4 separate regions of the Homo sapiens genome follow, and regions 1, 3 and 4 are each linked to region 2. Evidence: fine-mapped expression QTL. A gene starts in region 2. Each other region holds a variant in brackets. All regions are shown on one strand. Distances are from middle to middle.

Region 1 (8,105 bases), 19 kb before region 2:
CCCCCTCTCCCTGCGGCCTTTGTCACCTACTGTGATAATAAAGCAGTGAGTGCTGAGCTCTCACCCTTCCCCCACTAACCAGCTCCTAGCCTCTGCCCTCCCTCATTCTCATTCACACCTGTGTCCCTTTTCCACTAGGAGTCGACTTCACATCCAAAGGATTCACAGAGGGCCCCACTAGCTTCAAAACCAGGCACTTTCAAACTTGGTTTTAGCAGCAGAGTCCTTTAGTTATGGGCGATCTGAAACCCCATTATGCAAAACTAAAAACAGACCCTGAAAAACTGCTGGAGTTGAAGCAGAGGTGCTAAGGTCTCTCTTTCAGCTTCTGAAAATACCCTCTGGAAGCCTGGGGTCAGTGCTTAGTTTGAAAAGCAGGATGCTAAGCCATTCTGTAGGGACACTGTCCATTAGCACCACATAGTATGAAGGGGAGAATTTAAACAAGGAACCCCATGACAGTCATGAGAAGAAATCCTGTTGACATATGCCTGCCCCGTGTTAGGTAAGGTGCTGAGTTACCTCCATGCACATATAACCCTCAAAGCTACCTCGTTGGGCCTAGGTGGTTTGACCCCCTCCACAACTTTACAAATGAGGAAACTGAAATTCAGAGGTTAAGCAGCCTGCCCGAGGTCACAGCTAGCATGCAAAGACACCAGGATTCCATTTAGGCACATCTGAATCCAAAGCCCATTGGCTTGACCACTAGGTTGTAAGTAGATGAGGATGCTTGTCATGTGAAACGTGGTACAGTGGAGATTCTGGGAGAATAGGGGAGGTGTCCTAAAGAATATCAATCTCAAAGGGCACCCCAGTCGCAGAGACCAGTGTGGAGGTAGGAAAGTATGGGGAACAAGGACTGCAGTGTAGGGAATAGGTTTGGAGGGAGGGGGGAAGAACTGGAGGTTGAAGTAGGTTGGGTTTTTCAATTCCTTTTTTCACTTTAGGAGGCTGAGGCAGGAGGATCACTTGAGCCCAGAGTTCGAGACTAGCCTGGGCAACATGGTGAAACCCCATCTCTTCAAAAAATGTAAAAACTAGCCTGGTGTGCTGGCACACACATTTAATCCCAGCCACTCGGAAGACTGAGGCAGGAGGATCGCTTGAGCCCACAAGTTCTGTTACAGTAAGCTACGTGCCACTGCACTTCAGCCTGGGCAACAGAGTGAAACCCTGTCTCTAAAAACAAAACAACAAAAAGTTCTCCTGCCTCCCCACCTTCCCACACCGTTCTACTTGGTATTTGCTGGACATCTGTGTTCCTTGCCCAGTGCCAGAGGATACCACACATTAAAAACACAGGCTGGCAGTGTGTTCTGGTGCCAGCAGCTAGGGAGGGCTCTAGAATGGATGCTGAATTCAGTAGTGGCATTGGGGGTGGCTTTAGATGAGCAGGGGGATGAGGAGGACATTGCTGCAGCAGGCCGATGAACTGTGGAATGAAGGCTGCTGTGAGGAGCTGGGTTGGTGGATTGGGAGAAAATGGCATGGGGGCCTTCAGGTGCCAAGAAAAGCCTTGGCTTTGACCCAGATTTTTGAGCAGGGGCTGTGCCCAGGCAAAGGCAGGGAAGATCTCTTTGGGACTTGACCAAACCCCTTTTGGTCTGTTTTCCTTGGGACTGGCACCAAGGCCAGGCAACAGTAATTTCGTTGTTTTTTTTTTTTTTGAGATGGAGTCTCGCTCTGTTGCCCAGGCTAGAGTGCAGTGTTGCGATCTCGGCTCACTGCAACCTCCGCCTCCCAGGTTCAAGCAATTCTCCTGCCTCAGTATCCCGAGTGGCTGAGATCACAGGTGTGCACCATTATGCCCAGCTAATTTTTTGTATTTTTAGTAGAGATGGGGTTTCACCACATTGGCCAGGCTGGTCTCAAACTCCTGACCTCAGGTGATCCACCTGCCTCAGCATCCCTTTGAGACTCTGTCTCAAAAAAAAAATTAATAAACAGTGGTTTTCAAACTGCTCTGCAGCTCCCAAAGAAAGTGGGGAGGGCTCTGCCTTTCATCTTCTTTGGACGCAGGAGCCTAAAGTTGTAGGTAAGATTACTTTTGAAGAGAGTTCCTGGACAAAAGTTTGAAGACCACTGTTCTAGGGTGAACTCCTCATGGAGACAAACATAAAGGGACTTGCCTTGGGTCTTGGTAATGTCTCCAGGCTCTTTCCGCTACACTGAGCTGCGACCCACTTATTTCCGAGAATGCAATAAGGGTATGAAGACAGGCCAGCGTACAGTATACACCCAATTATCAACAAAGAACATGGAATAAATCTTCAATGCTTTTAAGACCTTTAATAATGCCCACGTGCCCTAAGGTTGGCCCTCTTAACTCCCTCAGCTCTTTCTGGCTTTAAGCCATCACCCCAGGTGTGCAGTTTATGTCAGAGGGGGCCATCAGGTAGGGAAACTTATCAGCTGCTCTAAGAGAAAAGGCCGTCCCTGCTATTATCAGTGGGCACAGGCTGGAGCTCAGCCAGCAGGGGCTACAGTCGGGTTACCTGGAGACATGATCCCCTGGTCCTCTGAGGGCCTAGGCAGGACATGGGGGAGGACACGGTCCCCCGGGACAGAGTCCTCTGGCCAGGAGCAGCCTTTCAGGTTGCTCTTGTGTGCTAGAAAAAAATATTTTCTCTATGTGCCATGTCATGAAAAAGACAAAAGCACTGAGTTAATGGGATGTGGAAACTTTAGCCACAGGCTTCTCTGCCTGTGAAGAGAGCATTTCTGCATGTGAACAGCTGGAGCAGGAGGCTGAATGGCAGTGCTTCTCCAGAGACCACAACATCCACCCAGTCACCTGTCCACCTACATTCACCTATCCATCTATCCATCCACTCACCTGCCAAATATTTATTGCATGCTCACTATGCACCAGGCACCATGCTAGATGCCAGAGACAAAGTGAAGACACCCTCAGAGGGGCAGATGCATGGTGGATTTGGGAGACTAAGGCCCAGGGAGTAGTAGGTTCCCCACAGGTACCCAGCACTCAAAGCAGCAATCTCCAACCCTTTGAATGCAAGGACTTTTTTGCTTATCTGTGGTGGCAGATATCACAAAAATTATACACAGACTTTTTTTTTTTTTTTAGCTCATCAGCTATCGTTAGTGTATTTTATGTGGCCCAAGAAAATTCTTCTTCAAATGTGGCCCAGGGAAGCCAAAAGTTTGGACACCTGTGATTTACAGGTTATGCCTAGATCTGAAACAGATCCCCATCCCTCCTAAAGCTGCCCACTGGTTATGGGCCCTGTTTCTCTTAGAAACACCACACACATCATTTGGGAAAAGCACACTGAGTAGAAACATGGCCTGAAAGGGTGGTGGGCGGTGGACCTGGCTTCCTGTGGCCAGAGGTCAGCGGACGATAGAAATGGTCTGATCGGCCACAGCAAAGACTGGGAAGAGGGGCCCCGGGAAGGACACATGATGGGCACAGAGCACTGTGCCGGAGGCTGGCTCATAGAAGAGCAGCTCCTGAACCTGCAAGTCCAGCACTACACCCAGCTGGGCTGGGCCCCGCAGCAGCCCCAGGGGCTCGTGCTGCCCATTGTGTGAGAAACGAAACTCCTGATCATAGCGAGAGAAGACCCAGGAGAAGGCATTGTGGCCCAGACGGCAGTCACTGCCAGAACCCTTGCGGGGCAGGTGGCCTGAAGCCACGCCCACCTTATAGGCACAACTGTT[C/G]TGGACATTCACCATCCAGGCATGGAGCCCATTCTGGAAGGAGGTGGCAGCCAGGGCATTGGGCCAGTGGTCGAAGCGCTCCGGGCCATCTGCACAGGCCTTTGACTTCTTGGTGCTGAAGGTCAGGGTCTTTCGATCATCTGACAATTGCAGGAAGGGGCTGACTGTCCTCTCATCGATCCGTATGTCCTCTGTGCCTGCCAGAAAGAATTCTCAGAGTTGCCGAGGGCCCACCCCTGCCCTAACCTGGTCCTGCCAGGTAGCAAAAGGTTCCTCACCACTCACTAGCATGGTGACCTCATATAAGCCATTTACTCTCTCTGAGCCTTGTCTGCAAAACGGGGGTCAAAATAGGACTTCTCACTGGGTGATCACGAGAATTAAACAGAATCATACATGTAAAGTGCCCAGCATGTAAGTGCTCTATAAACTGTAGCCTTCATAACAATAGTTACTATCAGTCAAGACCCTCAACTGTAAACTCTGATAGAAATAAGGCCCAGAGAGAAAAAGGGAGTTGCCCAAGTTTACACACTGACTTGGTGGGAGGGGCAAAATGAAGACAAAACATTTTGTTCCTATACGTAGCACTGATTATACTCTTTCTACTTGGTCATATCTGTGGCCTCCAGATTGGACGTGTCCTAGAAACACAGCCTCTGGGAGCTAGGAAGCATGAGATAAGCAATTTCTAGCAAATATCTAAACTGCTGGTAAATCAGGCATCATTTGATACCAGAATCTAGAGTAGAGAAGCTACAGCTTCTACCAAAATTGTAAGGATAATACGAGGAGGGAGGATTAAAACTGAAAAAAAAAAAAAATCAGTCTATTAACCTAACTGTTCCACGAATTGTGAAAGACTACCATTGGGAGAATGGAAGCTTCCATCTAACTTGGAGGAGGCCTGCTCTGGAGAACCTCTGTGCTAAATGGGAATTCCTGGAGGCAGAAGACCATGTCAGTTTACCTCTGTGGCCCCAGCATGTGGCACAGGGTGGGGCCCACAGTTGGCCTGAGTCAGTGTGTGTAAAGTGAATAAGTGAGGCAAATCAGGCAGTTTGATTCTTGGTCCAGATGTTCTTCAGTTGGCCATCAATTTTATCTTCTTAAAGAGAAACCCCAGGTTTCCAATAAATAATACTGGGCTGCCCTAGTAGGTCAGGATATAAGGAAGACATGACTTATAGGAATGAGATTTATCTTTGACCCAACCACAGAACATGTTAGTCCGGAAATGGGAAGGACTTGGCCCAGCTGCCCCAGGCCTGTCTGGAACCTTGACCCTACTGACCAGCCTGCATCCAGCATGACTTGTTTAAGCTATCATCTCAGAAGCACGGGTCCCCATTGTGAACCAGGAGTGAACCCCAGACAGACAGACAGAAGCCCAGTTGTCCTAATGGTCCTGGGCTCTACTGCTCCTAACCTGAGAGAGACCCAAGAACCGCCGTTGCCCAGAGTTGGGTCAGTAGTGGGCTCCGAGTGCACTTCTCATTAAAGTTTAACATTTCCGACTCCTGGGGATCCAAAATGCCCTCTGCTTCTTCGGTCCTTATATGGGGAAAAACAGAGACAGAGATTCAGGATGGTTCTGGAAATATATCTGGATCAATATGGGGTGAAGAGAAGAACAGAAGTAAAATCTCCTATCAGGCGATACCAAGATTGGCAGCTAGGGCCAGGTGCAGTGGCTCACCCCTGTGACCCTAGCACTTTGGAAGGCCTGATGTGGGAGAGGATCACTTGAGCCCAGGAGTTTGAGACCAGCATGGGCAACATAATAAGACTCCATCTCTACAAAAAATTTAAAAATTAGCTGGGTGTGGTGGCATGCACCTGTAGTCCCAGCTACCTGGGAGGCTGAGGTGGGAAGATTGCTTAAGCCCAGGAGTTCGAGGCTGCAGTGAGCCAAGATCATGCCACTGCACTCCAGCCTGGGTGACAGAGTGAGACCCTGTCTCAAAAAAAAAAAAAAGAGTGGCATCCAGGCCCCACACAGGTGCTTGGGCCAAAAGGGAAGGTGGCCATTTCCCCTGTGCCCCCCAGAAGCCTTAATTTTAGCAAAGCTGGTGGACAGTTTATAGGAAGATGTGTTCTTGGTGCCAGTATTAGAAATTGAAGGTGGTGTGCTCTGCAGAGGAAGCAACTTGCCAGAGTCCCTCAGTAAGTTAATGGCAGAGCTGGGGCTAAGACCTCCTGGGCCTCTGGAACCCCTGCACGATAGTCTTTCTACTCCAACATCTTGCCCTTGCCTGGAAAATATCTCACCTCCCTCTCAGACCTGTTGGGGCAGTCATGTTTCCCTGGGTTTTGTCAGAAGGTACAGCCACTCCTCTACTTTAAAAATGCAAACACCTGAGGGGTCCACAGAGGAAAGGGCCATCAGTTATCACCCCAGCCACAAATGAATCATGGCACTGTGTGCTCTCAATAACTCTCCCCTCAGCTCACAATGGGGGCTGGGTTTTGCTGGAGAGGTATTTTGGGACAATATGATGCCTAGGAGTTGAAAACTGCCATGTATCAGCAGTGAGGGCCTGGGTTTGCTGTTTTCTCTACAGAATCATACCTCAACTTTGCTATAACCTGGGAGGTAGTGGTTATCTGATTTAACAGGACAGAACAGATTCAGAGCTAAAAAGGGGAGCTAGATTCAAGTCATGCCTCCATGCAAAAATAGAACAAAACTGGGATGAAGCCCAGGCAGCATTCAACATAATTTTTTCCTTGACCTGAAGTGAAATCTCAAAGGAATATAGGGCAAAGTAGGGGTTTACCATGGAGCTTTGCAGCCTTTTGACCTAGGTGCTGAGAAAGACCTTTCCTACTGCCTCCAATCCTGAAGATGGCGTTGAGATCAGGCAGTGGTTCCGAGTACACACACTCTCTCCCCATATCTCATGGCTCTGTGCATAAATGGAGTGGGCACAGGGGTGGGGCATGTGCCCTGATGGCTCTTTGCAAGACTGTCACTGTTCTGTCTTGGGAGGTATAAGGTGAACAGAACCTTAGAAATGCTGGGAGCAAGCTCTAGTAACAAAGGCTCTTTGTGGTCAGGACAACAGAGGGTCTATTGCCATCTTCTCAGAACGCAGGAGCTCCCGCCAACAGGTGGGGAAGAAAGAGGAGCTGATGTCAGCGGTGCTAAGCTGTCATCCCAGGGCAAATGTGAGGCTGAACATAGTGAAGTCTACAGCGAACCACCCGGGCTAGCTGCCCTATGGTACCGAAGACAAAACTCATGGCCCCAAAGGGGTGGAAATGAAAAAGGGCCTGAACACAGCAGGCCCTGGCCAGGATCAGAATGCCCAGATGGTGCGGCAGGATCTGCTGCAGTGTCCAGTCAGAGTTGAGCCCAGCTACAAGCGTGGAAACACCAGAGCCAACAAGGCACTTCTCAGATAAGTGAGTTTCCGGCTAGATGGGGCTTCACAACTTTTGAACACTACTTTGAGAGTATATTCGCTCAGCCTGGGGGCATAAAGAACTACAGACAAATCTGGAACTCTATGGATAGGCCTTTCAATAGTAGTATGGGCTTAGCAATGCTCGGACAACTTTGTATGTATTGTAGGACTGAGCAAATACTGATGTTGTTGGGGGCTGGAGTCCTCACTGTAAAATAACAAAAGGTACAAATGTAGAAAGGGAGAGGGCAAAGGAAAAACCTTGAGGTGTTACATTGGAATTAGAATCTGTGATACAGGCTGGGCATGGTGGCTTATGCCTGTAATCCCAGCACTTTGGGAGACTGAGGTGGAAGGATCACTTGAGGTCAAGAGTTCGAGACCAGCCTGGCTAATATGGTGAAACCTTGTCTCCACTAAAATTACAAAAATTAGCTGGGTGTGGTGACACATGCCTGTAATCCCAGCTACTTGGCAGGCTGAGGCAGGAGAATCGCTTGGACCCAGGAGGTGGAAGTTGCAGTGAGGCAAGATTGCGCCACTGCACTCCAGCCTAAGTGACAGAGTAAGACTCCATCTCAAAAAAAAAAAAAAAAAAAAGAAGCTGTGACACAAACTCATGCATCAAACAGCTACACACACACACACACACTCTCTCTCTCTCTCTCTTTCTCTTTCTCCCTTCCTAGTTCCATCTGCTATATGCTGAGTGAGCTGAGTGAGGCCTAGAAGCAAGGTCACTGAGTACCCTTAATGCTCAGATCTTGGTTTCTAAATATCATTCTCCACTAAAAACAACCAGGTGCCCTGGAGAAGCAGCTGATTCAGGGGCAGGAAAAGCACAAGTTGAGCTGGGGTTTTCTTCTTGTGCTTCTTGTGAAAGAGAGCAAGAAAGTGCTCAAAGAATGATGGGAACTTTTCAAAAGGACACAGGGTCCAGCTTGAAAGGGCTTCTACAGGCCAAATCTGGGACAGTCTGAATGTCAAAATTAGTAATAACAGTGACAG
Region 2 (8,105 bases):
ACATACTTGGTGATGGCAGCACTCTGTAACTGCAGCCTCTCACACTGGTCCACAATCTTGTTCTGCAACACAAACAACGCTTGTGGCATCTTGGTCCATGTACCTGAGCCATTCACTCCATCCCAGTGATTTTCTCCTGTTACCACATGTCAGCCACCCACTCCCATGGTCATAGCCCAGATCTCATCATTATCAAAAACTGTACCACCTCCTAAATCTCCATTTCAAGGATCCACACTCTCCCCACCATGCCCTATCCTTCTCACTCCCTAATTCTAGGATACCTATTCCAGCAACAGCTCAGTTGAGGCCACCAACACACTAGTGGGACTACCTTTCACTGTCCATCATCCCCTTCTGTGACCTCACCTCCGTCTTCATCCCAGAACCCCAGCCTATCATTATAATAACTTTAAAACAAATTTTTGCTCTATGAATATTCTCAGGCTATATTATTTAGAAACATTTAAGATTAGAATCATTATATGTTGCTGGTGAACTGCACATTCTCTAAGTGACTTTATCTTTAGTACTATGTTTGCCTTAAAGTCCATTTTGTCTTGTGTTTATTTTTATTTTTTTTTATTTATTTATTTTTTGAGGCAGAGTCTCACTCGGTTGCCCAGGCTGGAGTGCAGTGGTGCGATCTCGGCTCACTGCAACTTCCACCTCCCAGGTTCAAGCGATTCTCCTGCTTCAGCCTCCCAAGTAGCTGGGATTACAGGTGTGTGTCACCACACCCAGCTAATTTTTGTATTTTTAGTAGAGACAGGGTTTCACCATGTTGGCCAGGCTGGTTTCGAACTCCAGACCTCAGGTGATCTGCCCGCCCTGACCTCTCAAAGTGCTGGGATTACAGGTGTGAGCCACCGCACCCAGGCGTTTGTTTCTTTTTAAATTTATTTATGTATTTATTTTGAGATAGAGTCTTGCTTGTCGTCCAGGCTGAGTGCAGTGGCATGATCAAGACTCACTGCAGCCTTGACCTTCCAGGCTCAAGTGATCCTCCCATGTCCTTCCTGAGTAGCTAGAACTACAGGCACGTGCCACCACACCTGGCTACTTTTTGCATTTTTTGTAGAGATGGACTTTTGCCATGTTGCATAGGTTGGTCTCCAACTCCTGGGCTCAAGCAATCCTCCCGCCTCAGCCCCCCAAAGTGCTGGGATGTTACAGGTGTGAGCCACCACGCTCAGCCCGTTATAACCACTTTCTGGCGCACACACTCTTGGTCCTCCGTCATACTCAGCTGCCTGACTGTCCATACCTTCTGTTCTGTCCAGAACTGCTCTCTGCCAAGTTATCCTCATTCATTAAGCAGCACCATCAATCATTCACCTGTTACCCAGACCAAAAACCCAGGAGTTTGTCTCCAACCCCACATCAATTCCATTAGTGAGTCCTATCAACCCCATCTCCAAAGTCTCTCTCTCTCCTCTGGTCACCTCTACTCCAGTTATTCTATCCAGGTTGCCATGATCTCTCACAGGAACCACTGTTAGAACCTCTTAACTGGGTACCCTGCACCCCCAACCCCCCAGCTAGCCAGAGCCACCTTTTGTAAGGAAATCAGACCAGGTCATGCCCCTACTCAAAACCCTCCAATGGCTTTCAGTACACTCACAATGACATCAGGCTTCTTAGCTTAGCCAACCTAGCCCCACCTGATGTGACTCAGCTTATTTCTCCAACATCACTTTCTACCTCTATCCATGCTGGCCTTCTTTCTGTTCCTTAAATGTACCAAACTTGTCCTGACTTCAGTGCCTTTGCACCTGCAGTTCCGTTTCCACCAGTCTGTGTGTGTGTGTGTGTGTGTGTCTCACTCCCCAACTGCATTCAGATGTCATCTCTTCAGAGAGGTCTTCCCTGACCATCTCCCTCCTCACCCAATCTCTTACTTTGCTTTATTTTTCTCCCTTGCACTTATAACTCTCTGACTATATATTATGTGTTTGTTTACCTTTTTGGGTATCTGTCTCCCCCACCACTGGAACAGAAGCACCATAAGTCTGACTTCTCTATGTCCTAGTACCTCAAAGAGAGTTTCTGAACATAGAAGGCCCTGAATAAATATTTGTTGAATGAACGAACACCCACTGCCTTGACCACAAGAGGTTCAGCAGTTCATGGCTCTCAAAGCTATGAGCATCATCCATGAGCTCAGGGGAGTTTTAGAAATGGGAAAGCTGGCCGGGCACGGTGGCTCACACCTGTAATCCCAACACTTTGGGAGGCTGAGGTGGGCGGATCACCTGAGATCAGGAGTTCGAGACCAGCCTGGCCAACGTGGTGAAACCCCATCTCTACCAAAAAATACAAAAATTAGCCAGGCGTAGTGGCATGCGCCTGTAGTCCCAGCTACTCGGGAGGCTGAGGTGGGAGAATCTCTTGAATCTAGGAAGCAGAGGTTGCAGTGAGCTGAAATAGCACCACTGCACTCCACACTCCAGCCTGGGTGACAGAGTGAGACTGTCTCAAAAATAAATAAATATAAGTAAATAAATTTTAAAAAAAAAGGAAAGAGAAAGAAACGGGAAAGCTGAGGCCCAAAGAGAAGTGACTTCCCCAAGAAGGTATGGGCCAGGGCCCTGCTTTTGCTCTCCGTTTCTCCAGGTGATACCTAGAGCCTATCCAAGCAGCAGTCCCTCCACTGTTCCCCCTAAGAGTTCTGCCTCAGTTCCATCTGCCAAAAGGCAACTTAGCTACCTCTTCCAGGAAGCCCTTGTAAATCTTTCCACCCAGAAGTAGAAATTAGTTACATTTCATAGGTCCAAATACAAAGTTACAGAATTGAGTTGACTAGGAGGAAGCTGTGATCACCATGCACCATGGACTAAGAGCACTGAGAAGGCTTCTGAAAAACCACAGGGCAGGAATCCAGAGGTAGGAGAGCAGTAGAACTGGTGCTGGTTTTGGTAATAATCTTGCCCTAGGGTGAGATTTATTTGCTGACTGGATGGATAGAGGAAGGAATGTGCAAAAGACAGAAATCTACTCTAATTTGGTGGAAGAGAGGGTAAGACCCACCTCCCTTCAGGCAAAGGAGATAAATATGCATACGGCCTCAGAGGGGTTCAAAGAAGGTTCCCTAGGGTAGTACCGAAACTAGCACCAGGCCTGCCACCTGCCCGAGGCTTCACTCTTTCCACCACTCAAATCCAGTCCTGATAGCTACTTTTAAGGTTTCCATGACATTCTCACCCCCATTAGCATCACTTCCTCCCTCCAACCGCCGAAGCAAAGCAGCAGTTTCCTCTTGCCTAGTCAATGACTCCCTGGGTCCCACCCCTGAACATTAGGAAGCTTGGAGGAGTTACTGCCTTGTTCCGAGCCTCCAGTGCCTCATCTGTAAAATGTAGGTAGGACCCCTTCAAAGGCGTGGTCAAGACAGAATGAGATGACAGACATTTAAGTACTTTGGAGTTTGCAAATTTTTTTGTCCATTATGCAAGTTGATTACACCGCGTTATCCAGGTTTATTTTTGTCATCATTATTGTTGATAGAGGTAACAGGTAGGACGAACCAGGAGCTTTTGGGTGTTGCTGAAAAACTGAACCCCTCCCGAGCCCAGCACCCTATATAAGATGTGTTTATTACAGGTCACTCTGGGTAGGCGAAGTCCCCAGCCAGAGCCCTCAGGCTTCACAGCAGGGGTGAACTGCAGAGTCGGGTTGGGAGAAACAAGCTGTTTAATCAAATTGCAAGGAAATCCCCAGGGGCCACAGAGAAGCCCAAGGTGACTTCGACTCTCCCAATCTCAGCAGCTCAGGAGAATGGTGATGACAAGGAGGTGGCCACCCTGGAGCCGAGCTGGAAGTGGAGGTGGCGAGAAAGCCTGGGTGAAGGGGAATCCCCTGATATTCTCCCTACCCCCACCGTTTATCCAGCTGAAGCCCTTAAACCAGCCTGAAGTACAGTCAAGGCCAATCCTGAAAGCGAAAAAGAGATCACCGCACCAGAAGCCAGAAGGGGTTAGGAGCAGGGGGAAGAGGCGAAAGGAGGAGGGGGGCTTTGAGTCCAGGGGTTAAGGGATACGGTCGCGCTGGATTTTATCAGTGTCAGTTTCCACAGGGGCGGGAGCTGGGGCACACCCTGCGCTGAGAACTGGAGCAGCTGAGCCTTTCATGCCAGCCCCAGCTTCCTCAACAGAGCAATGGAAGGGGCCTGGGGAGCCTGGATCCCCTTATCGCTAAGCATTTTACCCACTATCTTATTTATTTCTCACAACTCTAATAAATACGCGCTATTATTATTGTTGTTGTCCCCAAACTACAGATGAAGACACTGAGGCTCAGAGTTACGTGACTCACAGGGAGTAGATTCGAACTCAGGCCAGCCTGACTTCAGAGGCCACACCCTTAACCGCCTAGTCCTACAGCCAAAGCCACCGAGGAGCCTAGGCTCCGGGGCCGGGTGTCGAGTCCGCCCAGCCCCAGGCTCCCCAGTCCCTGCCGGGTCCCGCCAGGCGCGCCCGGGGTCTCCGGAGCCCTCGCCTTCCGGCGCCCACACCCGCTCACCCGCAGCTCCTCGGCGCGCTCCTCCGCCCGGCGGATGCGGTGCCCCCGGCAGCGACCGCCCAACCCCGCGCAGGCGGCGCACACGGGCCGTCGCTCGGAGCCGCAGAACCAGCTCAGAGCCTGGCCGTGTTCGGGGCAGAGTGGCCCCGGCCCGGGCCCGGACCCGGACCCCGGCCCCGGCTCCGCGCCCTCGGCGGACATGGCCGTGCGCCCGCCCCGTGCGCTCCACCTGTCGCAGGTGGCGGCGGGCGGGGCCTGGCTGACCCCGCCCCCGGCCCTCCCGGTGCGCCAGCGCGCCCCGCAGCTGCGCCTCCTCCCACCCAACCCGCGCTCCCATCCCGCCCGGGGCAGCAGGTCTCTTTAAATTCCTTGTTGAATGAAATCGCGATTGTATGCGTATTTGTTCTACAACAAACATAAAACTCCAAATATTACTGTGACCGTAGGAAACTTTATTGAGCACTTATTAAGTGCCAGGCTTTCGCTGAGAGCTTTGCAAGCGTTCTGTTATGTAATCCCGACCACTGCCCTTTTTGAGAGGCAGCTTTAGATGCCTAGCTTCAAGCAAGGCTCTGCTGAGAAACTGCCTGGTTCAAATCCCGTTTGGCTGCTCACTGGGTGGGAACTCCAGCTGTAAAATGGGGTGAGAGTACCTGCCTCCCAGACGTCTGAGGAGTAAATACGCTAAATACGTAAAACAATATCTGGAACATAGCAGCTGCAATCGCTAAGTGTCTACTAACAGTGCGAGGAAAGTACTATTAGGATCCCATTTTTATGGAAGTTAAGTGGCTTGCCAAGGGTCACAGTTACTAATTGGTAGCTATGAGATTGGAACCTAGGCAGTGTGACTTAAGGTTACTATAATTAATAATTTTTTAAATTGAACATTGAGGCCCAGTGAGAAATATCTGTATTAGGCTGATTTTCCCAAAGTATTTACATCCAAACTTTTTGAATTTGAATATTTGAGTTTTCTTTTTAAACTAGCATTGAAAAAAAGTAATGCCTTTTTATTTCGAAGAAAACAAAATATGCAAATAAGCATGTGGAAGAAAAATCCACCCACTCCCACCCCAGAAAGAAAAACTGCTAACATGTTCCTGAGCTGTTTAGGGCTTTTCCCACCCTCAGGATCTTATATATTAGTCTGAGCCCAGATTGAGCCCTCTGCTGGGGATCCAGTCTAGTCTGTCTGGGCATACAAGGAGAACGCTGCTCTCCAGCTCTAAATTCTTCTTCTTCTTTTTTTTTTTTATTTTTTTTTATTTTTTTGAGATAGGGTCTCACTGTGTCACCCTGGCTGGAGTGCAGTGGTGTAATCATAGCTCACTGCAGCCTCGACCTCCCCAGCTCAAGTGATCCTCCCACCTCAGCCTCCTGAGTAGCTGGGACTACAGGCACATGCCACCGTGCCCAGCTAAGTTTTGTATTTTTCGTAGAGACAGGGTTTTGCCATGTTGCCCAGGCTGATCTCAAACTCCTGGGCTCAAGCCATCTCCCCCCTTCAGCCTCCCAAAGTGCTGGGATTACAGGTGTGAGCCACCGCGCCCGGCCACCAACCCCAAATTCTTTCTTAGGAGTCTTGGCAGAAAGCTGGGCACTCTCTCAAAAGGGGAAGGGCCCAGGCCTTCAGGTGTCAGAGAGTACTCTGAGTGCATCAGAACTGAACACAGGCGGGAGCTAAACCGAAAGAGAAACATTACATCCCATAGCTCACAGGGGCTCTAGCACCTCTACTCTGAAGCTTCTCTAAGCAATGGCCACACAAAGGAGATAGAACCCTTTCCTTCTCAGCCACTACTGCTTTAGCACCTGAGGGGTAAGGGCAGCTAACAGCCCCAGAGCTACCCAGAGCGGTACACAGTGGTGTCATCATCCAATGGGGACACATTGTCACCCCAGATAGACAATATTACACCATATGATTAGAGAGAACACTGAGTGAAATATAGTCATTGGTTTCATCCCAGCTATGCAGCTTACAGCTATGGGATCTTGGTCAGGTTACTCACAGCTTCTGTGTCTGTTTTCTTATCTCTACAACAGAGGTGATAATAATACTATCATCTACCTTAGAGGGCTACTTCAAGAATGAAATGAGATCTTGTCTACAAAGTATTTACTTTGGGTGTCTGATATACAGTAGGGGATAATAAAAGGTTTTATTATATGTGTGAGGATCTGTAAATACAGTTGTAGCAGGTTTCAGAATGTAAATTGTGTGAGGTTCTTTGGCGACAGGGGTGCTGCTTTCCTGGCATCTAAAGAAGTTTCCAGTGCATCCCAGTGGGAGGGTGATGGCCTCATAACAGCATCTACACTCCTCTGGGGGTGGGGAGGGAAATAGGCCATGGTAATTAGAGATTGTGGTTAGAATTTTTTCCTTCTAAGGACTGGGGATGGGGAATTATTAAACCCTATGGTGAAAACAAAGAAAATAGGAGGTGCTTTTTGTGTGAAGGCTAAAAAGAAAAGAGGTTGTGTGGCCAGGAGCAGTGGCTCATGCCTGTAATCCCAGCACTTTGGAAGGCTGAGGCAGGCGGATCACTTGAGGAGTTCGAGACCAGTCTGGCCATCATGGTGAAACCCCGTCTCTACTAAAAGCACAAAAATTAGCCGGGCATGGTGGTGCACACCTGTAATCCTAGCTGCTGGGGAGGCTGAGGCATGAGAATCGCTTGAACCCAGGAGGTGGAGGTTGCAGTGAGCTGAGATCGCGCCACTGCACTCCAGCCTGGACAACAGAGCAACACTCTGTTTCAAAAAAAAAAAAAAAGAAAGAAAGAAAGAAAAGAAAAGAAAAGAAAGAAAAGAGGTTGTGGAGGGCAGGGGGAGGAACAAGGGTTAAAATCCTTAGGGAAAGGTGGGGGGGGGGGAGGGGGGCCTTCACTGGGTGTGGCCCTAGAGCAGTCATTGGCCCTACCAGGTCCAGGATCTGGAAAACAGCCCCTAAATCACCAGAATTACTTTCAGGTAGTGGCATCAGCAAATGCAAAGGGCTAAGGTAGGAGTAGATTTACTTTTATCAAGTCGGGTTCCTCTGTTTCACCACTTATGAGCCAAGTTGGACTGGAACTGGAGAATCGCCCTTTCCCTATCTGTTCATCAAGCCCTGCAGGACACATCTGGGATACTCATAAACTCCCCGGTTATAGCTCTTAAGCTTTATCAGGCTTCGGAATCGTTGGAGGACAGGGGATGGTCAGGAGGGGAAAGAGGAGGAGTTGTAAAACACGCAGACTTTCCGGTAAGATTTTCATCCATTAAGTCTGGGATGAAGCCAAGAAGCTGCATCTGTGGCAGTCACTCCTTGACTAGGATGCAAAGGAGCCCCTTGACTGTTTCTAGAAACACTGCCCTAAGGCAGTGGCAACCCTTTATTAGGTGGCATATCAAGAAATTCAAGGGGTGGAGATCAGCATCTTTTATAAAAAGAAAGAAAAGGCTGGGCACAATGGCTCACGCCTGTAATCTCAGCATTTTGGGAGGCTGAGGAAGGTGGATCACCTGAGGTCAGGAGTTCGAGACCAGCTTGGCCAACATGGTGAAACTCCGTCTCTACTAAAGATACAAAAACTAAC
Region 3 (8,105 bases), 27 kb after region 2:
GATGAAAATACACTTTGAAGGAAGAACTACTCAAGAAGCAAAGATAAAATTTGATTAATGCTTTTTACTCTCTATAAATTAAGAGAACATGTACTCTATGAAACAAGAAATTGAAAAAATAAGACAAGCCAGGTGCAGTGGCTCATGCCTGTAATGCTGGCACTTTGGCAAGGCAAGGCAGGAGGATTGCTTGAGCCCAAGAATTTGAGACCAGCCTGGGCAACATAATGAGACCCCATCTCCACAAAAAATTAAAAAATTAGTTGGATGTAGTTGTGCGCACCTATAGTCCCAGCTACTCAGGAAGCTGATGTGGAAGGATCACTTGAGTCCATGAGGTTGAAGCCATAGTGAGCTGTGATGATTTCACTGCATCCAGCCTTGGCGACAGAGCAAGATCTTAGTCTCAAAAAAAAAAGTAAGACAATAGAAGAATTATCTGGGAGAGAAAATATTTGAGGAAAAAATATTATTAAAAAGTAAAAATTGGCCAGGCAGGGTAGCTCATTCCTAAAATCCCAACACTTTGGGAAGCTGAGGTAGGAGGATTGCTTGAGCTCAGGAGTTCAAGACCAGCCTGGGCAACATAGCAAGACCTGTCTCTACTATAAATAAAAATACAAATATATTCGGTGGTCATAGTGGTGCATACCTATAGTCAAAGCTACTTGGGAGGCTAAGGCAAGAGGATCGTTTAAGCCAGGGAGATGGAGGCTGCAGTGAGCTATAGTTGTGCCATTGCACCCCAGCCTGGGTGACATAGCGAGACCCAGTCAGAAAGAAAGAAAGAAGGAGGGAGGAAAGAGAGAGAGAGAGAAAGAAGAGAGAAAAAGAAAAAGAAAGAAAGAAGGACGGAAAGAAGGAAAGAAAGAAAAGAAAGAGAAAGAAAGAAAGGAAAGGAAAGGAAGAAAGAAAAAGAATCTGTATGTGCGGAGAGTGTTGTTCATGTGTAAAGGCAATGGGAAGACATTCTTAAATTTGTAAAATCTTGCCATATGCAAAGCATTCCTCAATAATATAGTTGAAGGTATATTATTAAAGAATGTGAATGGGCCGGGTGCGGTGGCTCACGCCTGTAATCCCAGCATTTTGGGAGGCCAAGGCGGGCAGATCACCTGAGGTCAGGAATTCAAGACCAGCCTGACCAACATGGAGAAACCCCGTCTCTACTAAAAATAAAAAATTAGCCAGGTGTGGTGGCGCATGCCTGTAAACCCAGCTACTCGAGAGGCTGAGGCAGGAGAATCACTTGAACCCAGGAGGCAGAGGTTGTGGTGAGCTGAGATCACACCATTGCACTCCAGCCTGGGCAACAAGAGGGAAACTCCATCTCAAAAAATAAAAAATAAAAAATAAAGAATGTGAATGAATGATGAATAATAAAGCCAATGAATATTAAAGAAGTTCCAAACTGAATTCACTGTATGAGCCTTCAATCCAATTAAACACAGAATTATGTCTAAAGAATTGTCAAAACGAGGGCTATGAGAAGAAATGTAATTGTTTTAATTCTTTTAAAAATTTATATGTATAAAATACAAAATATTAATAATATGATAATAGACTAGATAAAAATCCAAGAGAGTACTTACAAAAGTGGGAACGAGCCAGAAGTAATATAATTGTGCTAATTAAAGAAAAAAAAAATTTTCCTTACAGGAGATTCTGTTTTCTTTCTGAAATTAATACATTGAGAATATGAGTTTAAGGATATTAATACATATACAGAGGTATCATGAGAAGAACTTAAGTTCCATATTATTTAAATTAAAAATATAAAGGGAAAAATAACTCTAAAAACAAATATACAATTTTATAGAAAAAGAAGACAATGAAAATATGACAAAGTGTTTTTCAAAAACCAACAGAAAAGATGGAAGGAACAAGATCAAACATATATATGATAGCAGTAAATGTAATTGGGATAAATTCACTTATTGAAAGGCAGTACTCTTACTGAGTTAAAAACTAAAGCCACCTGTACATTGTTTAAAAGAGACATATCTAGGCTGGGCACGATGGCTCATGCCTGTAATCCCAGCAGTTTAGGAGGCCAAGGCGGGTGGATCACTTGAGGTCAGGAGTTCAAGACCAGCCTGGCCAACATGGCAAAACTCCATGTCTACTAAAAATTAAAAAAAAAAAAGAATTAGCCAGGCATGGTGGCACACACCTGTAATCCCAGCTATGCAGGAGGCTGAGACAGGAGAATCGCTTGAACCTGGGAGGCAGAGGTTGCAGTGAGCAGAGATCACACCATTGCACTCCAGCCTGGGCGACAGAGTGAGACTGTGTCTCAATAAATAAATAAAAAATAAGACATATCTAATGCAAAACAGCTTTAAGATTGAAAGTAAAACAGTTAGTAAATATAGAACAGATATTTGTACACACACACACACACACACACACACACACACACACACACACACATATATATATATAGCAGCATTGTTTATAATAGCCAAAAGCTGGAAACAACCCAAATGTCCTTTGACAGATTCATGGATAAACAAAATGCGGTAATATACATACAGTGGGCTATTTTTCAGCCTTAAAAAGGAATGAAATAGGCCAAGCACAGTGGCTCGTGCTTGTAAACCCAGCATTGTGGGAGGCCCAGGCAGGTAGATCACTTGAGCCCGGGAGTTCGAGGCCAGCCTGAGCAACATGGCAAAACCCTGTCTCTACAGAAAATACAAAAATTAGTCAGGTATGGTGGCGCACACTTATAGTCCCAGCTATTCAGGAGGCTGAGGCAAGTGGATTGCTTGAGCCCGGGAAGGGAAGGTTGCAGTGAACCGAGACCAGGTCCCTGCACTGCAGTCTGGGTGACAGAGCAAGACCCTGTCTCAAAAAAAAAAAAAAAAAAGGAATGAAATTCTGATACATGTTACAACATGGCTGAACCCTGAAAACATTATGCTAAGTAAGAGCCGGACACAAAAGGACAAATATGGTATGATTCTGCTTATTTGAGGTACCTAGAATAGTCAAGTCCATAGAGACAGAAAGTAGAATAATGGTGGGTGCCAGCGGCTGCGGGGAGAGGAAAATGGAGAGTAATTGTTTAAAGGTTGTAGAGTTTCAGTTTGGGATGATGAAAAAGTTCTAGAGATGATAGTGGTGATGGTTACACAACAATGAATGTACTTGTTGCCACTGAGTTGTACACTTAAAAATGGTTAAAATGGTAAGTTTTATGTATATTTACCACAATTCCAAAAAAAAAGAAACACGATGGAAGAGATCAGAACAGGAAGAGTAGGTCAGCAAAGATATATCAGGCAAATGTAAACAAACAGAGCAGGAGTTGGGATGATAATAATATCAAGCAAAGTTGTATTCAAGGTAAAAAGCATAAAATGGAACAGAGATTCACTTCAAATTCTTCGTAAGTATAACAGAATCACCTGTCATAACAGTACAGCATCCATTTTTGGGGTGTGGTGATGATCAAGTGCAAAAGGAATCCCACAGGAGGAAGTTCTATAGGAAGCCCAAGAGGGGATACATCCTCACCAAGGTGACATGATCTGAGGAGGTGAGATTTTTAACCTTACCCTGAAGGACAGGAGGAAATCTGCTACATAAAGGAAAGGTAGCACAACATTGATAAAGGTGGAAATTCAGACTGGCCCATGCTGTGCATTCATAGATTTCAAGCTTAGGTATTACTCTTTTGAGAAGTGTGTGTGGGGGCCGGGCACAGTGGCTCA[T/C]GCCTGTAATCCCAGTACTTTGGGAGGCCGAGGTGGGTGGCTCACCTGAGGTCACGAGTTGGAGACCAGCCTGGCCAACATGGTGAAACCCTGTCTCTACTAAAAATGCAAAAATTAGCTGGGCGTGGTGGCTGGTGCCTGTAATCCCAGCCACCCGGGAGGCTGAGGCAGGAGAATCGCTTGAACCCAGGAGGTGGAGGTTGCAGTGAGCTGAGATCACACCACTGCCCTCCAGCCTGGGTGACAAAGTGAGACTCCGTCTCAAAAAAAAAGAAAAGAAGTGTGTGTGGGGAGGGAGTTATGCAGACTCATCTTTCCCCCAATTTAAAGTCCAGTCCAACTAGCATACCAGAGCTATTTCAGTGTTGTTGTTTTTTCCCTGAGCAGGTAGCCTGTATTCCCAAATCCAGCCAGTTCTTCAGTGCCTCTCGTGACAGGATGGTCATGATGTGGGACTTGCACGGTTCCTCACAACCAAGGCAGCAATTGTGTGGCCATGCCATGGTGGTCACCGGATTGGCTGTGAGTCCAGGTAAAACAAAGCGGACCTCTTCCCAATGCCTTTGTGCTTTCTGAAAAGCCCCGTTCAGGTCCCCACTCACAGGCTGTCTTCTCACCATTGTTTCCAAAGACTCATCACAGCTGTGCACTGGCTCTCGGGACAACACCCTGCTTCTGTGGGATGTGGTGACAGGACAGAGTGTGGAAAGAGCATCTGTCTCCAGGAACGTGGTATGAACTCAAACTTGGTACAGAACAGGGCAGCAGAAAGGAGCATGGGGTGAAGGAAAGGCTCGGGAGATAAATCAGGAGGCCCATGAGCAGAAATTAGAGCCTGGGTCCCAATTGCTGTCCCCTAACCTGCTGTGAGACCCTGGCCTCTCAGGGTTATTAGATTAGATGTTCCCTTGAGTCTTCTGCTCCAGACAATGATTTTACTCACTTATATTGGAATTTAAAATGGTGTCTTCATTATTTCTTTCATTATTCTGTTTCTTCTGTGGGCCAGACACTGTGCTAGGAACAGGGTTAGTGACCAAGAACATAGTTCCTGTCTTCCAGGACCTCACAGCTTATGCTTATTGTATGTTCATATGTGTAACATCATGTGGAGAAATAAGCATTACCTTTTGCTTTATGTAGAATTTGCATTGCTTTTGAAGGACCAGTTGTTTTCTAGTAGCAGACTGGTATAAATTGGAGAGCCTTTGGAGTCAGTTATACTCAGGTTAAAATCATGGATCTATTACTTACCAGTTATGTTATCTCAAGGAAGTTACTTAAGCTCTTAGAGTGTCTGTGTCTTCATTTATAAAATGGGGAGAATTCTATCACCTGCTAAGGTTCTTCAGAGGATGAATTCAGATACTAGATGTGAAATACCTGACATTGTGTCTGACCCATACTAGATGTTCTTTTAGTGGTTGTCAAATTTCAGTCCCAGTCATCTTTTCTAATTTTGAAGATGACTGCCAATGGTCAGATATGCTTGCCCCATGCCCTCTATATTGGTGGAGGTTACTGGAAGAAAAGAAAATCCTGTTATTTCGGGTTATTTTGGAAACTATTTTATGCCTATCCAGCAGGGACCTGCAGGGATAAAGAGAAACATGAATGCTCTTCCTGATCCCCATGAGGTGTTGGGGCTAGAGTTTCAGTGAACCCACCTTACAACAGGAGCTGTTCTATCTGCCACACAGCTGGGGTTTCAGGCACTCTTAGGGTGCCTGCATGTATTTTGGTGCTCACAACTGGCCCAGCTGTTATCTTGCTGCTGATAACCTAGGAGATGCAGGTAGAGCATGACTGATAGGTATCTGCAAAACCTAAGATGCCTGTAAATGAATTTGCTAGTTCAGAATCCTTGAGAAGAGGCACAGTGATGCTAGTTAGCACATTTGACAGGAATTACAGCAGAGGAATGACTTGGTGTGGAGAAGTTCTGAACATTTTGCTTTTTCTAGGTCACTCACCTGTGCTGGGTCCCCAGAGAACCATACATACTACAGACCTCTGAAGATAAAACCCTCAGGTGGGCTTACTGAGCAGCTGTGAAAGTGTTTCTTGTGAGGTTTGTGGCTCCCATGCATACATGGCTCCATTCCCACTCTGATTCTCCACATTGCTCTGCCCTTCCCAGAGCCTTCTGTTCCTCTGCCCTTCACTGGTGCTGGGGCCTCTCTGCTTTGGCCCCATGGATCATTAAGGTAGAGGTTGTGTGTCATGAGATCAGGCCAAGTAAAAGCCCCTGTTTTGGATGGTTCCAAAGCATCTGATTCAGCCAGCTCCTGCTGTGTGAAGGTGTTCAGATTAACCCCAGAATCAGTCACTTGCTTGTCCCACCCTGTTGGGCTGCCTGGCTCTCCTTGCTACCCCTGCATGGCTCCTGGTGTTCTCAGTCACCCAGCCTTCAGCTGAAGCCCTCCCTGGGGAAGCAGGGTTGAAATCAGCATCAGGGGAGTCAGTAAAGCCAATAGTTCTTAGACCGGAGAGGATAACTAGAAACTTTGGATCTCAGAAGAGATTCTCCTTAGAAAATGGTAGGAATGGGGTAAAGAGGTAAAAATGAAATAAGAAGCAAAACAAAACACTCCCCAGTGGACCCCATAGCCAAGGCTGGCCATGACCTGTATGTAAATCTTTTGTAACTAATTCTGAATGATGACTGATTTCCCATATCATAATAAGTATCTTTTTAAAAATTTAAGTCACAGGCACAGAAATATCCTTTTGTCCACGGAAAGCAGTGTCTCAAAGGACCAAATTAACAAATTAACTTGTACAATTAAGATGCTTGGTCTCAATTTCTATTAACTGATCTCAAAATAGAAAGAACTCAGATGTCATTCAATTTGGTTACTTCCTGCCAACTTTAGAGTCTCAGAGATTGATCTGGTTCATGCTGCCGTTTTTAGGTAAATCATGCCATTCCAATCTGACTGGCCTATGCAGCAAAGAGCCAAGACTTTTTTGGTAGTGGGACAATACGGGTGTATTTCAGCCACATTTACTACAAGCTAATTTCCTGCCCTAATCTCTTTCAGATTATGGGACAGTCGGGGGCTGCAGGTAGCTCATATGTTTCCTGCAAAGCAGCACATTCAGACCTACTGTGAAGTCAGTGTGGATGGACACAAGTGTATCTCCTGCAGCAATGGCTTTGGAGGAGAAGGCTGTGAAGCCACGGTAGGAGACTGTGTGAGGTCCAGGTATCTGGTTGCTGATGAACAGATCACTTACTCTGGCCTCATGCCTGTAGCTGTGCTACACAGGCGGGCTTTGCTAATGGCTCAGGCCTCTTTCAAAAGCATACTGTGAGTGATCCTTTGCATTCCAGTTGCTTCATTTAAGAAACATTCATAGGGGAGGCCAAGGCGGGAGGATTAATTGAGCCCAGGAGTTTGAGACTAGCTTGGGCAACAGAGCAAGACCCTGTCTCTATAAAAAAATAAAAAGTTAGCTGGGCATGGTGGCATGTGCCTGTAGTCCAAGCTATTCAGAGGCTGAGGTGGGAGGATCAACTGAGCCTAGGAGTTTGAGGCCAGCCTGGGCAACAAGGGAGACCCCATCTCAAAAAAATAAAGAAAGAAAATAAAAGAAACATTCATCAACTTAGGGCTCTCTGAATTGGTAGTAGGAAAGAGGAATGGGATGAGAGTCAAGATGGGGAGGAGCTAAACACAGAACCAGCCTGCTGATGTCTCTACTCCCAGCAGAGCTTAGAGAGGGGAGGGACTGTTTGAAGAACCAGATTTATTCCCATTATAGGCGTGGCCACAGTAAAAGAAGCTCAAGCTTTTTAGGAAATTTGGAGCTCTAGTGTTGGTCCAGGGCCTACTCCATCCCTTACTCATGTACCTTCCTTACATTTAATTTTGGAATAGATTGCCTAGGCTCCTCCAAAGCACCTTAGATTCATAATTGTAGAATATCCATTAAAAGGGTTATCTAGTATTCAAACAGAACAATTATGCCTCCTATTTTATTGAACATTTCTTGTGTGCTGGGCACTGGGATGAGCACATTACATGTAATATCTCATTTAATCCTTAAAAACAACCCCATGAGTTAGGTACTATTATAATTCCCATTTCACAGACAAGGAAATAGAGGCATGGCAAGTTGACATCTCTTGCACAAGACCACATCCCTAGTAAATGGTAGATTGGGGTGTTGCAGCCTTTGAATGTAGCATCTCTTTTCTAAGTGAAACATTTCCAGCTCCTACAGCTATTCCCTGGATAACATGCTGTCCAATAACTTCATTATCTTTTTGGACATAATTCAATTTGCTCTCCTCCCTGAACATTATTCTCCAGCTGTGATCTGATCTGTATCAATGAGAGTGGGACTGGCAGCACTGACTGGCACTTCCCTCTTGTAGAC
Region 4 (8,105 bases), 63 kb after region 2:
CTTTACCAGTAGGTCAATTTCTCTCCTGTTTTACTGCTCAGTTAAGCTAAAGCCTGGCCTGCATTCCACGGGAACACAATACTGTTTGTCTGTGTCATTTAGACGTAAAATAGGAGGAAAGCTTACGCTCAAACTTGACACCAGTCACTAAGTTCTGATGAGCAGGGATGGTGTAGACGCAACGCCGCTGTCGGAGGTCCCACACTTTGCAGGTGTTGTCACCACTGCCGGTTGCAATGTGATAGCTGTGGATTGGATGCAGTATTGAAGTTAGAAATAGAGTACTTACTGACCCAGAACCCTTTTTCGCCCCTCATTCAGTGTGTTTATTTTACCCATTGGGGGAGAAATTTATTCCATAGATTTCTTTCAGGTGGCCTTCTAAGAACATGATACAACGTCCTGTGCGTAGGTCCCAAACTCGACCAAATGCATCCAGTCCCCTGAGAAAATAATTTAGAAATGAACACTTTGAATCCAGTTCTCTGTGGAAGCAGGTATAGGTAAGAGGTGAGAGTACTGAACTGCCCCTGACTACATGGGAGAAGCCTTACCCAGTGCCAGCCAAAGAGCCATCTTGATGGAAGGCAATGTCATACACACCCATGCTATGGCCTTCCTGATGCAGGATCTCCTCTTGAGCCTCCAAATCCCATAAGCGCCATGAACGGTCATAGCTAAAACCAAATCACACTAACAATCAACCAGCTGATATTTATTCAGTTTCTACAACACATAAAGTATTCTAAGCCATTATAGCTTAAGTTATTAATGCTTCTGAAACTATTCATATAACCATATTAACAGGAAGCTCCTTTCTGACATAAACAATGACTCAACAACTAAGCTTATCTGCCTTAGGTGCTAGCTGAAAACCATGGAATCGCTGTAAACCTCTAGGGCTTTTTTTTTTTTCTTCTTTTGAGACAGAGTCTCACTCTGTTGCCCAGCCTGGAGCACAGTGGCGCAATCTTGGCTCACTGCAACCTCCACCTCCCGGGTTCAAGCCATTCTCCTGCCTCAGCCTTCTGAGTAGCTGGGACTACAGGTGTGCGCCACCATGCCCAGCTAATTTTTGTATTTTTCATAGAGATGGGGCTTCACTATGTTGGCCAGGCTGGTCTCGAACTCCTGAGCTCAGGTGATCCACCCACCGTGGTCTTCCAAAGTGCTGGGATTATAGGTGTGAGCCACCATGCCCAACCTAGTGGCTATTGTAATAACAGGATTCCCCAAGAATGGCCCAGCAAAGACTCTGTTACCTTCTTTCTTCCTCCACTGTTATATTCTTTCATTCATCAAGCATTTATACATTTACTAGGCCCTAAATTGGATGTTGGGGATACAAAAATCACTCATACACAAATAGATCAATGGAAGAGAATAGGAAGTACAGAAATAACCACACATATATGGTCAGATGATTTTCAACAAGGGTACTGAAACAATTCCAACAGAGAAAGGAAAGTCTCTTCAATACAAGGTGGTATAACTGACTATGCACATGGAAATAAAGACAAAAGAGACAAACACAATTTAAAAAACCAGGCAAAGCATATGACAGAGCACTCAAGAGCAATAATGATCAGGGTAATAAGAATGAAAATCACGGGAGATCACTACACACCTGCTAGATTGGGCAAAATGGTAAGACTGACAACACCAAATGTTAACAGGGATGTGAAGTAACCAGAACTCCGGGAATGTAAAATGGTGTAACCGCTTTGGAAAACTGGTGGGGAGTTTAGAAAAAGTTAAATATACATCTCATACCTCTACCCTATGACCCAGCAATTGTACTCATGTCCACAAAAAGCCTGGTACAAGAATATTTATAGCAGCTTCATTCTGACTGGCCCAGACCTGGAAACAGCCCAAGTGTCCATCAACAGGAGAATGGATAAACTATGGCACAGTCATAAAAATGAATAACCCCCAGCAATAAAAAGGAATTACTGATACATGCAACAACATGAATGACTCTTAACAATGTTATGCTGAAAGAAGCCTGCCACAAATGAATTCACAGTATGAATAGACATAATTAATTTGTGGTGATAGAAGTCAGATCAGCAGTTGCTTTAGAAGGGGGAGTTGGCTGGAAAAGGGCATGAGGGACCTTTCTGGGGTGATGGACTATTCTCTATATTGACAGAGGTGTCGATCACAGGAATGGTACGCGTTTGTAAAGACTGACAGCATTGTACACTTAAAATAAATCCATTCCATTGTATGTAAATTATAACTTAATGGAAAAGTTCTCTAACAGATTCTAGCCTCCCTGAACTTACAGAACCAGGAAGGGAGACTTATATACCTGTAGCATTGGACAAGAGTGAAAATCCTTGTTTTCTGGTAATTTGTAACTCTGAAATTTCAGATTAATTGTAATTTAAAGGCAAATATGGCTGGGCGCGTTACCTGTTATCTATAATCCCAGCACTTTGGGAGGCTGAGGCGGGAAGATCACCTGAGGTCAGGAGTTTAAGACCAGCCTGGCCAACATGGTGAAACCCTGTCTCTACTAAAAATAAAAAAATTAGCTGGGCATGGTGGCACGCGCCTGTAGTCCCAGCTACTCGGGAGGTCGAGGCAGGAGAATTGCTTGAACCCGGGAGACGGCGGTTGCAGTGAGCCGAGATCGCGCCACTGCACTCCAGCCTGGGTGACAGAGTGAGACTCCACCTCAAAAAAAAAAAAAAGGCAAATATACTTAGCTCTCACTATATTAAACATTCTCCTCTGATTCCAATTCCCTGCAGCCCAAGAAAATCCTACCTGAAGATCTCTGCTCTAAAAATTTACCTGGCAGATAGCCATAAAGGGTTAAGAAGATGCTACAGGCCTATATGGATAAAACAATAACAGGATGGCTCACCAGGTGGTGCCCAGGAAACGTCCTGAAGGATGCCACATTACCCGCGCCACACGCACTGTATGGCCTTCAATATCTGCCACTGGTTCATCACTGGAAAGGAACCAAACATATAAACAATTTTATAGACATATAAATAGTCACAAAACTGCTTACCTTCTGTGCAGACATACCCATTCTGTACAACACGAGAGGCTAAATTGTAACTACACTTGTAAACTACTTTGGCCCAATAAGCAAAATAGTCATTCTGCACCAAAGGAGTACCTGGATTCTAGAAAGAAAACATGCTTTGGAAGAGATATAAGGACACAGAAATCACATAGTTTTGGTACAAGTGGATTACAGATAAACCTTTTTCAAATTTAGGCCTGTTCCAAGATCCAAATGAAAAAGGAACTCCTAAATAGAGATGAGGCTTAGTCTCCTTTTGGTGGCCATTAAATTCTGCTACCCAGCAACCACCAAAAGATCTGAACATCAGCAAAAGGAAATAAACATGAACTCTAAGGAACGCAATTAAAAAGGGAACTTTGTCAATGTGCATACACAGAACAAGCCAAAGCCCAAGGGGAATAAACATTGCTAAGTATTACCAAAGCCAATTAAAACTCACTGCGCTCCTAAGTGAGACCCTGTCTGGTGAGGAGTGAAGACATTAATTAGCTCTCATAAAAATTCTCAAGTAAAAACCTTCATGTGTTTTCCCAAAGAAAGAAAACTAAACAATTAAATTCAGATGCCTTTTGGCCAACAGGGTGCTTCCGAAGTTTTTTTTTTTTTGGAAAACAATCACATAAACACATTTTTAAAAACTGTTGTAGTTGGAAAATACATTCTAGGTAAAGGATGATGCTATTGCGAGGAGACATCTCCGTGGTAATACTGCTAGACAGAACCTCACTTTCCTCTCCCCTGTGGCTGTTTGCTAAGAACCAACGAACTGCCAAGAATATTA[T/C]ATTTAGTTCATTGTTAATTTATCATGTAGGAGGTAGGCTGGATCTTTCTGGAATAAATGGAGCTAGGAAATAGTGGTCACTAGGCTATAGACAAAAATCAAGATCCAAAGTTAACAGGTAAGAAAAAACGGACATAACTCCTTTAGTAAGAAAAGGCCTAAGAATGAAATCTTCCACTTACTTCATTTTCACACTAGGTTACCTTGACTCTTAAACCATCTTGGGGGTTAAATGCCAGATTTTTTTTTTTGTTCTTTCAAGACGGAGTCTTGCTCTGTCACCCAAGCTGGAGTGCAGTGTGCAATCTCGGCTCACCACAACCTCCATTTCCCGGGTTTAAGCAATTCTCCTGCCTCAGCCTTAAGGTGTGAGCCACTGCGCATGGCCTAAATGCCAGATTTTTACTGAGGTCCTGGGGACCAACCAATCAAACATCTACTTTAGTGATGGCAGTATGGGCCACAGAACAGTGATATTCACCTGTCGAGACTCCAAAGCTTCACAGAGCCATCAGCCGCACAAGAGGCCAGGTTGACATCTTTTGGGTCCAAGGAGACAGTGGATTTGGGATGGAATACAATTGCTCCTACATTTGTGTTATGCCCTAAAGGAGTGTAAGAGATGCAAGTTAAAAGGTTCCTGCCTCTTTATAACCCATGTTATATACTAGGGAACATGTGGACATACAGAGTATTCAAGTGACTATTCAACTATTAAAACATGAACTATTTTAATTTAAGCTAATATTTAAATTACATTTTTAAAAAAGCAAAACACAAAAAAACCCATTTTGGTTTTTGGTTTAGAGATTATAAAATGCCAGAGTGTGACTGCACATGAGAGAAAAGTGGATGTGTAGGAAGTTGTGATAGTCCAGTCTTGCAGCCAGAGAAAACCAAGTCAAATCAAATCAAGGATTAATGCTGTGTGTATGGGGTCTGAGTGTCAAGCAGAGTTTAAGGCTTAACTGAGTTCACACTGGGAAAAAGACCGAGATTTGGATAAGACTCTAACTTACCTCGAAGAGTGTGAAGGAGGTTGCAATCAGGAACAGACCAGAGCTTGCAAAGCCCACTCCTATCAAATACAAAGGAAAGCATCTCAGCCAGGGTTGGTCTGGGAAGGAAAAGGTACCTTGGTAATATTACTAAAGGACAATCTCTTCTCACCCCCAATAAACTTTACAATGGCTGACAGAAAAATAAAAGCCTTATAGTTAGAAGGGTTATAGAAGAAAAAGCTACCTCCAGCCCACACGCAACCAGAGGCTTTTACTGGACTATAATTAACACTACACCAGTAGCCATTCTCCTTAACTTTTGGATCCACTTGTGAGGGAAGGTGGGGCAAATTAAACTATCCAATAATACGAATATTAATAGTGATACTGTCCTTAAATATGAATAGTATTTTGCTGATTACAAAGTATTTAAATTTTTTTTTTGAGAAACAGTGTCACTCTGTCACCTAGGCTGGAGTGCAGTAGTGTGATCACAGTTCACTGCAGCCTCAACCTCCCAGGCTCAAGCAATTCTATCACCCAGCCTCCTGAGTAGCTGGGACTAACAGGCGCATGCCACCACACCTGGCTAACGTTTTAAAAAATTAAATAAATTTTTAAAAATTTTTTGGGCCAGGCGCTGTGGCTCACACCTGTAATCCCAGCACTTTGGGAGGCCAAGGCGGGCAGATCACAAGGTCAGGAGATCGAGCCCATCCTGGCTAACACGGTGAAACCCTGTCTCTACTAAAAATACAAAAAATTAGCTGGGTGCGGTGGCGGGTGCCTGTAGTCCCAGCTACTTGGGAGGCTGAGGTAGGAGAATGGCGTGAACCCAGGAGGTGGAGCTTGCAGTGAGCCGAGATCGCGCCACTGCACTCCAGCCTGGCCGAAAGTGTGACACTCCGTCTCAAAAAAAAAAAAAAAAAAAAAAAAAAAAAAAAAAAAAAAAAAAAAAAAAAAAATTTGTAGAGACAGGGTCTCACTATTGTTGCCCAGCCTGGTCTCAAACTCCTGGGCTCAAGTGATCCTCCTGCCGTGGCCTTCCAAAGTGCTGGGATTACAAGTGTGAGCCACCATGGCTGGCTGGCCTTAAACTTTTTAGAGACTTCTTATTTTGGAAATTTTTCAACAAATTACTTTTATATCTATTATCTCGGATGATCTTTCTAACAGACCTGTGAAGCAGGTACGGCAGGAACGATCAAACTTTATAGTGAAGGTAATGAGGCTTGGAGAGGTGGACTCATTTGTGCAGAACCTTGGCTTTCTCCTGAACCCATCTAAAGGTCAGCCTAGTCAAGTAGCTCCTGTGTATTCAATCTAAGTTTCCTTTCTCATTAGATAGCCATGTCCCACAGAAAAACACAACCAAACTCAAACAAAACAACAAAGTTACCACATCCTGAGTTTTCTGCATATGTGGTGATAAGAAAATAAAACAAAGATAAACCAATAATTAACGTTTAACGAGTCCTTACTACATACCAGGCACTGTCAAGGCAAAATGCCTTGCAAACACTACCTCATCCCACTTTACAGGTAAGAACACTGAAGCTTACAGAAATTAAGTATCTTAGCGAGGTCACATAACTGAAAAAGAAAAGCCAGACTGAGTTATGGATACTAGTTGGTCTATAAACTCACTACAGGACCTGTTCCAAAATACTAGTGTCAAGAATGTGACAGAGTGCTTTGTGTAATGGATCTCTGGGGTCACTGGTGAAGAGCGAGAACGGCTAAACCAAGGCTACATTGTATTATACAACAGGTAGAGCACTGACTGACATCTGTAGTTTGGTGTGATCATGAGAAGCAGAGAAAGAGGACGTAGAAATAGACGTCTAACGCAAATGCTAATTTTCTTCCTGAGCCTGTTCCCCATTTAGGAAAAAATGTCATTGTAAAATGGAACTTACCAACAAGCTGTGGCCAGCATCTTGGAATTGGGACTAAAGTGACAGTAGGAGATAGGCCGATCATCCCCAATCTGACTGCAAAAATTATTCAAAGACTTAAAAAGAAAAAAAATACACACACGGTGATCATTAATAGGTTAATCTAAGAGCTCCTTTGCTTTTCCACCATAAAAAGAACAACAAAGCAGCTTTTCAGTTTTAACCCATCCCAAGATTCTTCTATGGTTTTGTTGCTGCTGTTAGAAGACACATACATTGATAAATGAAGTTATATGAAACTCCAGCATGCTGTTTTCTATAGTCTTTTTTTTTTTTTTTTTTTGAGACAGAGTCTTGCTGTGTTGCCCAGGGTGGAGTGTAGTGGCGTGATCTTGGCTCACTGCAACCTCCGCCTCCCGGGTTCAAGCAATCCTCCCGTCTCAGCCTCCCAAGTACCTGGGATTATAGGCACATGCTATCACACCTGGCAAATTTTTGTATTTTTAGTAGAGACAGGGTTTCACCATGTTGACCAGGCTGGTCTCAAACTCCTGAGGCTCAAGTCATCCGCCTGCCTCTGCCTCCCAAAATGCTGGGATTACAGGACTGAGCCACTGTGCCCAGATGTTTTCTACAGTCTTAGGATCACAACTTCTGAGTCAGCTAAATATAAACAGAAAACCCCAGAGAAACTCTGACATATTAACGGGGAGAAATAAAGAATAGAACCATAGGCCTCTGCTGAATACAAAGCACAGTAAGCTCCTGCCACATTAACTGATGGCTCCTTCCATGTCACAGCAGCTCAACTTAAGCAGGGAGGAATCACTCTAGTTGCCTCTACCTTCCCAGAGGTGAGCCAAAGTAGAAAAATCAAATAAACATGAAGAACCTTTAAGATGTGGGACAATTGCTGGGAGCATCTTACCCGGAGAGACTTGTGCAGCTCTTGCATCTGGGAGGTCCTTGTTGTCTCAGGAATCTCCTTATGGAGTCGGGCCTCTTCCAAGCGTTTCATTGCCCTGCGACACAGAAACACCATCACCAGGAGCAACAGGGTTGTAAACAAGGACCCACATGTATCCCTACTCTACCCCTCAATTTCATTTAACAACCATAGTCATTATCCAGCACTCAGTTCCTGAGAGGAAACACACACAAAAAATATGCTTCTTTCTTCTACTGGAGGCTCTCTTTACCTGGGCAACGAATAATTAGCAATCCATAGTCTTGCCACCTTCAAGCTATTTGGTCCTTCATGATACCAGGTTTGCTGATACTGAAAGGCAAATTAAGAGCAGAAAGGTCAAATCTGAAGCATTCTACTCCTCTTATAACTGTCATTTCTCCATTTTAACTGCCCAGAAGGAAGG

Evidence for each region. PIP is the estimated chance that this variant, and not a neighbour inherited with it, causes the effect. A credible set is the group of variants that fine-mapping cannot tell apart.
Region 1: its variant is the best candidate, but not a certain one, in a credible set for the expression of BSPRY in lung (TOPMed, PIP 0.74).
Region 3: its variant is the best candidate, but not a certain one, in a credible set for the expression of BSPRY in anterior cingulate cortex (GTEx, PIP 0.71).
Region 4: its variant is the best candidate, but not a certain one, in a credible set for the expression of BSPRY in whole blood (INTERVAL, PIP 0.66).

The regions. Positions count from the first base shown.
Region 1 is chr9:113,365,395-113,373,499 of GRCh38, reverse strand. BSPRY (B-box and SPRY domain containing) reads right to left here. Exons shown (of 6, transcript NM_017688.3): 5 at 5,117-5,241; 6 at 2,278-3,884. The coding sequence ends at 3,358. It overlaps HDHD3 (haloacid dehalogenase like hydrolase domain containing 3), which reads left to right. Exons shown (of 3, transcript NM_001304509.2): 3 at 1-78. Among named protein-coding and RNA genes, the nearest start is that of HDHD3, 7.5 kb to the left of the region's middle. RefSeq lists enhancers at 3,081-3,581, 3,582-4,082. The variant C/G (reference allele first, on the strand shown) is at 3,688.
Region 2 is chr9:113,346,197-113,354,301 of GRCh38, reverse strand. It overlaps BSPRY (B-box and SPRY domain containing), which reads right to left and starts at 4,761. Exons shown (of 6, transcript NM_017688.3): 1 at 4,522-4,761; 2 at 1-62. The coding sequence starts at 4,722. RefSeq lists silencers at 1,737-1,786, 4,414-4,693, 4,724-4,793.
Region 3 is chr9:113,319,157-113,327,261 of GRCh38, reverse strand. It overlaps WDR31 (WD repeat domain 31), which reads left to right. Exons shown (of 11, transcript NM_001012361.4): 6 at 4,107-4,251; 7 at 4,351-4,451; 8 at 5,684-5,751; 9 at 6,764-6,905. Among named protein-coding and RNA genes, the nearest start is that of WDR31, 17 kb to the left of the region's middle. The variant T/C (reference allele first, on the strand shown) is at 3,720.
Region 4 is chr9:113,283,038-113,291,142 of GRCh38, reverse strand. PRPF4 (pre-mRNA splicing tri-snRNP complex factor PRPF4) reads right to left here. Exons shown (of 14, transcript NM_001244926.2): 5 at 7,932-8,011; 6 at 7,661-7,754; 7 at 6,754-6,848; 8 at 4,853-4,911; 9 at 4,315-4,438; 10 at 2,879-2,968; 11 at 555-677; 12 at 336-443; 13 at 127-245. Among named protein-coding and RNA genes, the nearest start is that of PRPF4, 11 kb to the right of the region's middle. The variant T/C (reference allele first, on the strand shown) is at 3,834.